Linked DNA regions of Homo sapiens. The protein of the gene in region 2 purifies or fractionates together with the protein of the main gene of each other region. This does not show direct contact. Each region holds a gene or a part of one and is shown on either strand. Other genes may lie near its edges.

What was found. Proteins that work in one complex are often made in the same cells at the same time.
Region 1: the proteins of APAF1 (region 2) and MKRN2 fractionate together in Homo sapiens (co-fractionation; one large-scale study listed by BioGRID). This does not show direct contact.

The regions. Positions count from the first base shown.
Region 1 is NC_000003.12:12,566,388-12,571,209, reverse strand, and holds part of MKRN2 (E3 ubiquitin-protein ligase makorin-2), read right to left. Parts: intron 2,336-4,822; coding exon 2,207-2,335; intron 1,140-2,206; coding exon 958-1,139; intron 1-957. UniProt on the Homo sapiens protein: E3 ubiquitin ligase catalyzing the covalent attachment of ubiquitin moieties onto substrate proteins.
Region 2 is NC_000012.12:98,664,963-98,669,784, forward strand, and holds part of APAF1 (apoptotic protease-activating factor 1), read left to right. Parts: intron 1-88; coding exon of another isoform or gene 89-117; exon of another isoform or gene 118-396; intron 397-590; coding exon 591-829; intron 830-1,227; coding exon 1,228-1,395; intron 1,396-2,550; coding exon 2,551-2,682; intron 2,683-4,822. UniProt on the Homo sapiens protein: Oligomeric Apaf-1 mediates the cytochrome c-dependent autocatalytic activation of pro-caspase-9 (Apaf-3), leading to the activation of caspase-3 and apoptosis. This activation requires ATP. Isoform 6 is less effective in inducing apoptosis.

The sequences.
Region 1 (4,822 bases), on a different chromosome or scaffold from region 2:
GAACCCGGGAGGTGGAGATCATGCCACTGCACTGCAGCCTAGGCGACAGAGCGAGTCTCCATCTCCAAAAAAAAAACAAAAACAAAACAAACAAAAAACACAACAAAAAAACTTTTACAATTTGTAGCTTTCTTCCTCATCAAACCCTGTTTTAAGGCACAGACCATGCCCCAAACCCTAGTGTGCTATTCTTTTCCCAAAGGTGCAATCTAAACTGTCAAACACTGTCAGCATAAAAACTAAGACCATTCACTGGCCTAAAAGTCAAACAGTGAAACATGCTCTTTAGCAAAATATTTAGTTTTCTTTTTTTTTTTTTTTTTTTTGAGAGGGAGTCTCACTCTTGTCATCCAGGCTGGAGTGCAGTGGCGTGATCTCAGCTCACTACAATCTTTGCCTCCCGGGTTCAAGAAATTCTCCTGCCTCAGCCTCCCAAGTAGCTGGGATTACAGACACCTGCCACTACACCCGGCTAATTTTTGTATTTTTAGTAGAGACAGGGTTTCTACTAAACCATGTTGGCCAGGCTGGTCTCGAACTCCTGACCTCAGGTGATCCACCCGCCTCAGCCTCCCAAAGTGTTGGGGTTATAGGTGTGAGCCACTTTACCCAGACAAAATATTTACGTTTGAAATGAAGAGCTTGATGCTTCTCACCAGCTGGACAACCACCATATGAAGATGGAAGTTACATGTTGACAAAAAGATTGTGTTTTTATGTTTTACCAGGCCAGTCTTGGAGCTCAACCCAGCCTTGGGCACGAGGGCGAATGTATCATTTGAATGATCTGCAGCCACATGGAGCCTCTTCAGAACAGTTCTGAAGTCTCTCCGCGCAGACAATCTGGAGGTGTATTAGGTTAGGAGTCCTCTTGACAAGAGGAGGCTAGAAAGGAGCACCAAGCATTAACAAGAGTGCTATGCAAAAAGACGCAACAAAAGGCTTCCGCTTACTCACTTCGGTCTCTAAGAACCAATGTTCTCTTTTCACGCTTTCCGGGTTCATGTGAGTTAGTTTTCACAATGGATGCAGTGACCTCGGAAGGAGGGTGAGGACTGTGGAAAGCTGGGGAGGGCACACTGTGGGCCATGGTGCCCACAGCACCTCCAGCTGCAGCAGAGGGCCTCGTGTGGTCATATCTAAACAAAACACACAGCAGATGCATTACAGACATGCCACCCACACACATCTCCCACACTCCCCAGATGCCAATGGCCCTCCTTCTGCTGCACTTGTTGAGGTGAAGAAGGCGGCCATCTTTTCCAATATTTAAACTCTAACAGGATTATCGATTATTAACAGATGCTTGGCAATTCATTGTGAGGGGGACATTTGCTATCTATCACCTATGCTTAAGTGTCTCTGTGGGACTTGAGTGGGACAGACACACAGCACCAGACCACACAGAGAACCTGAAAGTTCCAAACAGATGTTGAGCTAAAATCTCCTGATGCCTGACTGACCCAGTATTCTTTTGAGCAGGAGTCCCCAAAATGCTGACAAGGGCCAATGATCTCTCCCTGACTGTCTCTCTTGGCACTCATTGACAGGGGAAGACCAACGTGGGCCTACTTCCATCATCTCCCACTGCACTGCAGAGAAAAAGGAGGGAAGGAAGCTTTGCAGTCTAGAAAGAAAAGATCGGCTCTTTGCTACAAAAGCATGAACAAGTTTCCGGAATTGTGTACAATTTTATAACTATATATTCATAAGAATAAGGCTGAAAAGTAGTTTTAAAAAATGAAAATTAGGCCAGGCACGGTGGCTCACGCCTGTAATTCCAGCACTTTGGGAAGCTGAGGCGGGAGGATCACGAGGTCAGGAGTTAGAGACCAGCCTGACCAACATGGTGAAACCCCATCTCTACTAAAAATACAAAAAAAAAAAAAATCAGCCAGGCGTAGTGGCAGATGCCTGTAATCTCAGCTACTTGGGAGGCTGAGGCAGGAGAACCCTGGAGGCGGAGGTTGCAGAGAACTGAGATCGCACCACTGCCCTCCAGCCTGGGCAACAGTGAGAGACTCTATCTCAAAAAAAAAAAGAAAAGAAAATTAGTTTTAGGGTACTGAAACTGAGGTTTTAAACTTATTTGCCATACTTTTTGTGATGTTGCCATATTACTTTTACATTAAAATTTCCCCCTTATCAAGACCCATTCTCCAAATGAAATCAGTGTCACAGCTGGAATCTGTTGCAGAGTCCTTGCCTGCACCGAGTTCCATAGGCACAGTAGCCCTTCTGGTAGTACTTGCAGATGGTGGACGGTTTGCTGTTTGCCAAGTCATGTGAGAATAGGCACTGACTTCCTTCCCGACACACACCATGCATAAAATACCTGCAGAGACAAGCACAGGCATACAACTTTTAGAAGCACATTTTGCTTTATAAAATCAGCTTATTCTTGAACTTAGCATACAAACATTTACCAGGCATATATTATGTATAAAGGCTCTATTAGGCACTGGAGAGAGATCTATATATTTCCTTGATTCTACAACAGTGATTTCAGAGGCACTACAACTGATTCAATGACAGCTTTTCTGAAAGAAAAACAAATGATCCCATATATTTCTATGTGAAGATATATCTTCCTGATTTGAGATATGTTCAATGTGAGCCACATAATTGAGAAAACACTCTGTGAAAAACTGTTCTCTCTGTTCTCAAGGAGCTTAAAGGGCATGACTAACGAAACCAGAAGATCTGGGCTCAAGACCCAGCTCTGCCACTTAAGAACATGTCACAAAACCAACTTCCCTGGGCCTTGCTACCTTTCCCTATAAAATGAAGATTATACTACCCACTTAACTGGTCGTGGTGAGGATCAAATACCATAGTGTGGTATCAAAAGATATACACAGATGCTCCTTGACTAATGATGGAGTTACATCCCAATAAAGCCACTGTTTTTTGTTTTTTGTTTTGAGATGGAGTCTCTCTGTCACCCAGGCTGAAGTGCAATGGCACAGTCTCAGCTCACTGCAACCTCTGCCTTCCGGGTTCAAGCGATTCTCCTAGCTCAGCCTGGGCTACCTTACTTATGCTTAGAACACTTACATCAGCCTACAGTTGGGCCAAATCATCTAACACAAAATCTATTTTACAATAAAGTGTAGAATAATCTCATGCAATTTATTGAACACCGTACTGAAAGTGAGAAACAGAAAGGTTGTATGGGTACTTGTAGTTTTTAATGAAAGCTGTTTCTCATACATTGTTTCAGATGTTTCAGAATATCAGATGTATCACATGTTCTGTATCAGAATATTCCACTGAGATATCAGATCCTGGCCTTGAAGAATAAGTGGTACAGGAATACCTGGGAGGCTAACTCTGTCCAGACAGGGTAGAGAGACCTGAGTGAATACTCAAACAGTAGAGACCCTAGATGAACATGTCTTGATATTAAAGATAAACTAGGCTGGGTGTGGTGGCTCACACCTGTAATCCTAGTACTTTGGGAGGCCAAGGCGGGCGCATCACCTGAGGTCGGGGGTTCCAGACCAGTCTGACCAACATGGAGAAACCCCGTCTCTACTAAAAAAAATACAAAATTAGTCAGGAGTGGAGGTGCATGCCTGTAATCCCAGCTACTTGGGAGGCTGAGGCAGGAGAATCGCTTGAACTCAGGAGGTGGAGGTTGCGGTGAGCCGAGATTGCGCCATTGCACTCCAGCCTGGGTGACAAGAGCAAAAACTCTGTCTCAAAAAAAAAAAAAAAAAAAAAAAGATAAACTAGCCAGGGCAACAAAGGGAGACCCTAAAATTTAAAAATTAGCCTAGCATGGTGGTATGCACCTGTGGTTCAGCTACTCAGGAGAGTGAGACAGGAGGATTGCTTAAACCCAGGAGTTCAAGGCTGCAGTAGCCATGATTGTGCCACTGCACTCTAGCCTGGGTGACAGCAAGATCCTGTCTCACAAAAGAAAAAAAAAAAGTAAACTAGTGTTAGAGTAGAAGTATTTTAGACACACCCTAATAAGGCTTAAAAAAAAAAAACACAAGCTGATAGCAAGTATATAACTTACTGTCAGCCAAAACAAACTTTAAAGGAAGACAATACAATCCAAATGCTCAGAAACTCACAATGCTTGGCATCCAATCATAAATTACTAGATATGCCAAAAAGCAGAAAATAATGTGACCTATAACCAGGAGAAAAATAAAGAACAGGAATTACAGAGATGATGGAATCAGCAAAATAAGACCTTAAGAACAGCTATTATACATATGCTCAATATGCTGAAAGATTTAAAGAAAAACATAAACATAATGTGGAGAGAAATGGATGATTTAAATAAGACCAAATACTAGGTGTGGTGGCTCACGCCTATAATCCCAGCGCTTTGGGAGACTGAGGTGGGTGGATGACCAGAGGTCAGGAGTTCGAAACCAGCCTGGTCAACATGGTGAAACACCATCTCTATTAAAAATACAAAAATTAGCCAGGTGTGGTGGCAGGTGCCTGTAATCCCAGCTACTTGGGAGGCTGAGGCAGGAGAATCACCTGAACCCTGGAGGCGGAGGTTGCAGTGAGCCAAGATCGCGCCATTGCACTCCAGCCTGGGCAATAAGAGCGAAACTCCACCTCAAAACAAAACAAAACAAAAAACAAATGAAACTTCTAGAAGTGAAAAATACAATGTCTGAAATGAGAATTACATTAGATGAGTTTAGTAGATGGGATACTACAAAGGAAAATATCAGAATACTTGAAGACACAGAATAGAAACCATCTGAGAGAGAGAGAGAGAGAAACAAACTTGCTTCTGACTACCAAGGAGCATGGATCTTGGCTTCTCACTGTAAAAAAACAAAACAAA
Region 2 (4,822 bases):
TGTTTACGTTGTTTAAGATTTTTTCACTATTCTAAGTGTGCTGTGATGAATATCCTTAAACTTAATCATTCTTTTCTTTTTCTTTAAGACAGAGTCTCACACTGTTCCTCAGGCTAGGATGCAGTGGTGCTGTCATGGCTCACCGTAGCCTCAACCTCCTGGGCTGAAGCAATCCTCCCACCTCAGCCTCCTAAGTAGCCGGCACTATAGGCACACACCACCACACCTGGCTGATTTTTCTAATTTTTATTTTTAGTAGAGACAAGGTCTCATTATATTGCTTAGACTGGCGCATATATATATATATATATATATATTTTTTTTTTTTTTTGTAATGACATCTTAGCCAGATTTGATCTATGTTATTTTGACTTAATAAAGATAATCAGGAACTTACTGAATGAAATCTTTCTTATTTCTAATTTTTTTTGGGATAAATATCTAGAAGTGAAGTCAAGAGTGATAAATACTTAAGGCTTTTGATAACATGCAGCAGAAATTGTTTCTTAGTAATGTAAGTAAGTAAGTCGATTCTTATTAGTGACAAAATAGGATGGTATTAGCATAGTGACTTCATTTTTTTTTTAAAGGCTCTCCCCTTGTAGTATCTTTAATTGGTGCACTTTTACGTGATTTTCCCAATCGCTGGGAGTACTACCTCAAACAGCTTCAGAATAAGCAGTTTAAGAGAATAAGGAAATCTTCGTCTTATGATTATGAGGCTCTAGATGAAGCCATGTCTATAAGTGTTGAAATGCTCAGAGAAGACATCAAAGATTATTACACAGATCTTTCCATCCTTCAGAAGGACGTTAAGGTGCCTACAAAGGTAATGGGATCAATGATCCTCATCATTGGGTATTTATTGCATGTAAGCTTTGATATAGTACTGAGCATGTTGTTACAGAGAACCTTGGAAGGATAAGACCCAGGGGACTGAGGTGGTGGGGTGTTGGGTGTAGAAATCCCTCTGCTGTTAGCTTCCATTAAGGGCTTTGTGTTGAACTCAGGAGTTAACCTATTTCTGTGGTTCTAGTGCAGCTGAAGAAGCATCTGACTTCTCTTTCTCTTTTCTATCTTGAGGAGTAGCTGAGTTTCTTCTTAAGAAATGGAGACATTCTTACTCAGGGCTTTAAGATACCGTTTTTTTGTGTGTGTGATAATACCTGTCTACAGTCCTGGTCATTGTACTTTTGTGGCATATTAAATACTTACAACAATTCCTAGGTGTTATGTATTCTCTGGGACATGGAAACTGAAGAAGTTGAAGACATACTGCAGGAGTTTGTAAATAAGTCTCTTTTATTCTGTGATCGGAATGGAAAGTCGTTTCGTTATTATTTACATGATCTTCAAGTAGATTTTCTTACAGAGAAGAATTGCAGCCAGCTTCAGGTACTTGCATCTTGGTTTACTTTTTTTTTTCCTTTTTCCTTTGAAATAATTTTAGATTTATTGAAAATTTACAAAATAGTAGATAGTTTCTGTGCATAAGTCCTTCACCTAGCTTCCCCTAATATTAACATTTTATATAACCATAGTACAGTTGTTAAAGCCAGAAAATTAACATTGATACAATACTGTTCACTAACCTACGTGTTCTTTTTGTAGTCCAGGCCAATTTAGGATCCCGTATTGCATATGATTGTCTTGTTTCCCTACTTGTCATTTTTTTCCGTCTCCTCAAATCTGTGAAAATTTATCAGTCTTTATCTTTCATGGCCTTGTCACCTTTGAAGAGTACTGGCTAGTAATTTTGTACAGTATACCCAAATTTGGTTTTGTGTGATGTTTTTCCTGACTAGATTGAAGTTATAGATATTTGGCAAGAATACCAATGATGTTGTATCTTTCTCAGTGGCGTCATAGGCTGAGAGTACTTGGTGGTTTTTAAAAAATTTTTTGTAGAGATAGTGTTTTGCCATGTTGCCCAGGCTGTTCTTGAACTCCTGGGCTCAAGTGATCCACCTGTCTTGGCCTCCCAAAGTGCTGAGATTGTAGGTATGAGCCACTATTCCCAGACTCCTGGTGTTGATATGTTTTATTATGGGTGATGTTAATGTTGATAATTTGTTTAAAGTGGTATCTGCCAGGTTTCTGCACTGTAAAGTCATTATTTTGTGGGGAGATTCTCTGTATATATATATGTATTTTTTTTTTTTTGAGACAGGGTCTTACTGTGTTGCCCAGGCTGGCATGCAGTGGCTCACTGCAATCTTAAACTCCTGGGCTCGGTTGGTCCTGAGTAGCTAATTCCCGAGTAGTTGGGTCTGCAGGCATATGCCACCACACCTGACTGATTTTTTTTATTTTTTATTTTTTGTAAAAAAATTAAATATACGGATATCTCTCTATGTTGCCCAGGCTAGTCTCGAAGTCCTGGCCTCAAGTGATCCTCCTACCTTGGCCTCCCAAAGTGCTGGGATTACAGGCGTGAGCCACCGAGCCCGGCCTCTCTGTACATTCTTAATAGCTTTGGAAGCTGAAGTTACTGTGATGCTTAGGTTATAAAATTGTTTCTGGCTTCTGAAACGTTTCATTGGGTTGCAGGATCTACATAAGAAGATAATCACTCAGTTTCAGAGATATCACCAGCCGCATACTCTTTCACCAGATCAGGAAGACTGTATGTATTGGTACAACTTTCTGGCCTATCACATGGCCAGTGCCAAGATGCACAAGGTAAGATGACCCATTTAAAAATTCTTTTATCTGACTTCCCTTTTTCCATATGTATTACAAATAAGTGCTTTTTTTCTGTTATTTTTTGTCTTGAATTTTGTTCATATTGCTTTCCATTTGATTTTTTTTTTTTTTTTTTTTTTTTGAGACAGGGTCTCACTTTGTTTCTCAGGCTGGAGTGCAGTGGCACAATCTCAGCTCATTACACCCTCACCTCCTGGGCTCAAGTGATCCTCCCACTTCAGCCCCCCATGTAGCTGGGACTATAGGCACATGCCACCATGCCTGGCTAATATTTTTGTATTTTTGGTGGAGATGGGGTTTCACTATGTTGCTCAGGCTGGTCTCAAACTCCTGAGCTTGACGTGAGCTCAAGTGATCCACTCGCTTCAGCCTCCCAAAGTGTTAGGAGTACAGGCATGAGCCACCGCGGCTGGCTGAAGATTTGAATTTTTATGTAGTTAAATTTACCACTGTTGTTGTCGTCGTTGTTTGGTATTTTGCTTTGCTGTCCTGTTCATAAACATGTATTGTTTTATTAGTATAATTTTTTATTAGTAAAAATGGGATTATAGCTTGCATAATTATTTTTGTTTTTACCTGTAGTGATTAGAAAAGGTACCTTAGTAACTAGTAAATGAACCACCTCAGAATTAATCCTCTTCTTACTAGTAGCTTTCCTTTTTGGGCAGTATGGATTTGTTTTGTAAGCTTTGAGAGGAAATGGATAGTGGAAAAGTATATTCATTGATTCAATAAATATTTATTGAGTGCTTGTTATGTATATTGCTCTTCATTAAGAGGATAAAGCACAGGCACAAAGTCATTGCTCTCACGAGTTTATGTTCTGGGAGGAGGCAGACATTAAACAAATTTATTATATTTCAGTGGGTAGTTAAGTGCTCAGAAGAAGGACAGAGCATGGAAGGGGAAAGAAAGTGATGATAGAGGGGTAGAATCATCATGATTTGCTTATGGGTTTGGTATGCATTATACGAGAAAGAGAAGAATCAAAGATGACTCCAAGAATCAAAGATGACTCAAACCCCAGTGGAAAGAACGGAGTCCATGAACTGAAACAGGGGTCTTTGGGAGAACAAGCTTTTTCCTGCAGAGAATGGGGATGGTTAAGAACTCATTTTGGATATATTAAGTCTGATATACCTATTAAGGCATCTGGCTGGAAATATTGAATAGGCAGTTAGATATATGAGTCTAGAATTCTGGGGAGAATTATAGATGAAAGATGAAAATAAGGAATTATTAGCACATAGATGGTATTTGATTGAAGTCATGACTACCAAGTAGCTACTAAAAATGTTTACATTTGGAAAACCATATGTACTTTCAGTAAATTTTCTATGCTCAGGTATGTTATTTCTTGGTTATGATACATAGTAAATTGTTGTAGTTTGTTTTTTTATCTAGCAAAATATATTTACATTTAATAGTGTATATTGGAATGATGGTATTCCAATAAATACTTGTGCCCTAATTTACTTAACCAAACTCTAGTTATCGAACATTTAGGTTTTCAGTTTTTTTGGTCCTTATGATGTAATGAGCATTCTTGTTTATCTTTGTACCTATGTTGTTTCCTTGGCAAATTCCGAGAAGTAGAATTACTGAGCCAATGCATCTTTTTAAAGCTTTTGACATGTATGATAGTGTGGCAGGATTCAGTTTCTCTTTAGCCTTTTTTCTGACTTTAAAGGTAATGGTTGATTTTCATTGGAAAAACAGAAAAAAACGATGAAAAGGAAAACAGAGATCACAACCATTACTAATGCTCTTGTGTATAGTTTTCTAGATCATTTTGCTGCTTCTATAAACATACTTGTCTCTTAAAACCAAATGGGATCATAATAGAAATAGTCTCATATATTGCTTTTTACCATTTAATTACATTGAATGGTCATCTTTTCATGTCATTTATATAGAGTGACATGATTTTTAAAGCTGCATATTATTTCATTGTATAGCTACATTATGAATGGCCAGTTGGTTGATGGACAATTAGATTGTTTAAGCATATTCATCTGGTTATTTTCTTAGGATACTTTTTTATAAGTGGAATTTCTGGGTCAAATAGTATGTGCAGTTTAAATTTTAATACAGATTGCCAGACTGCTCTCCAGAA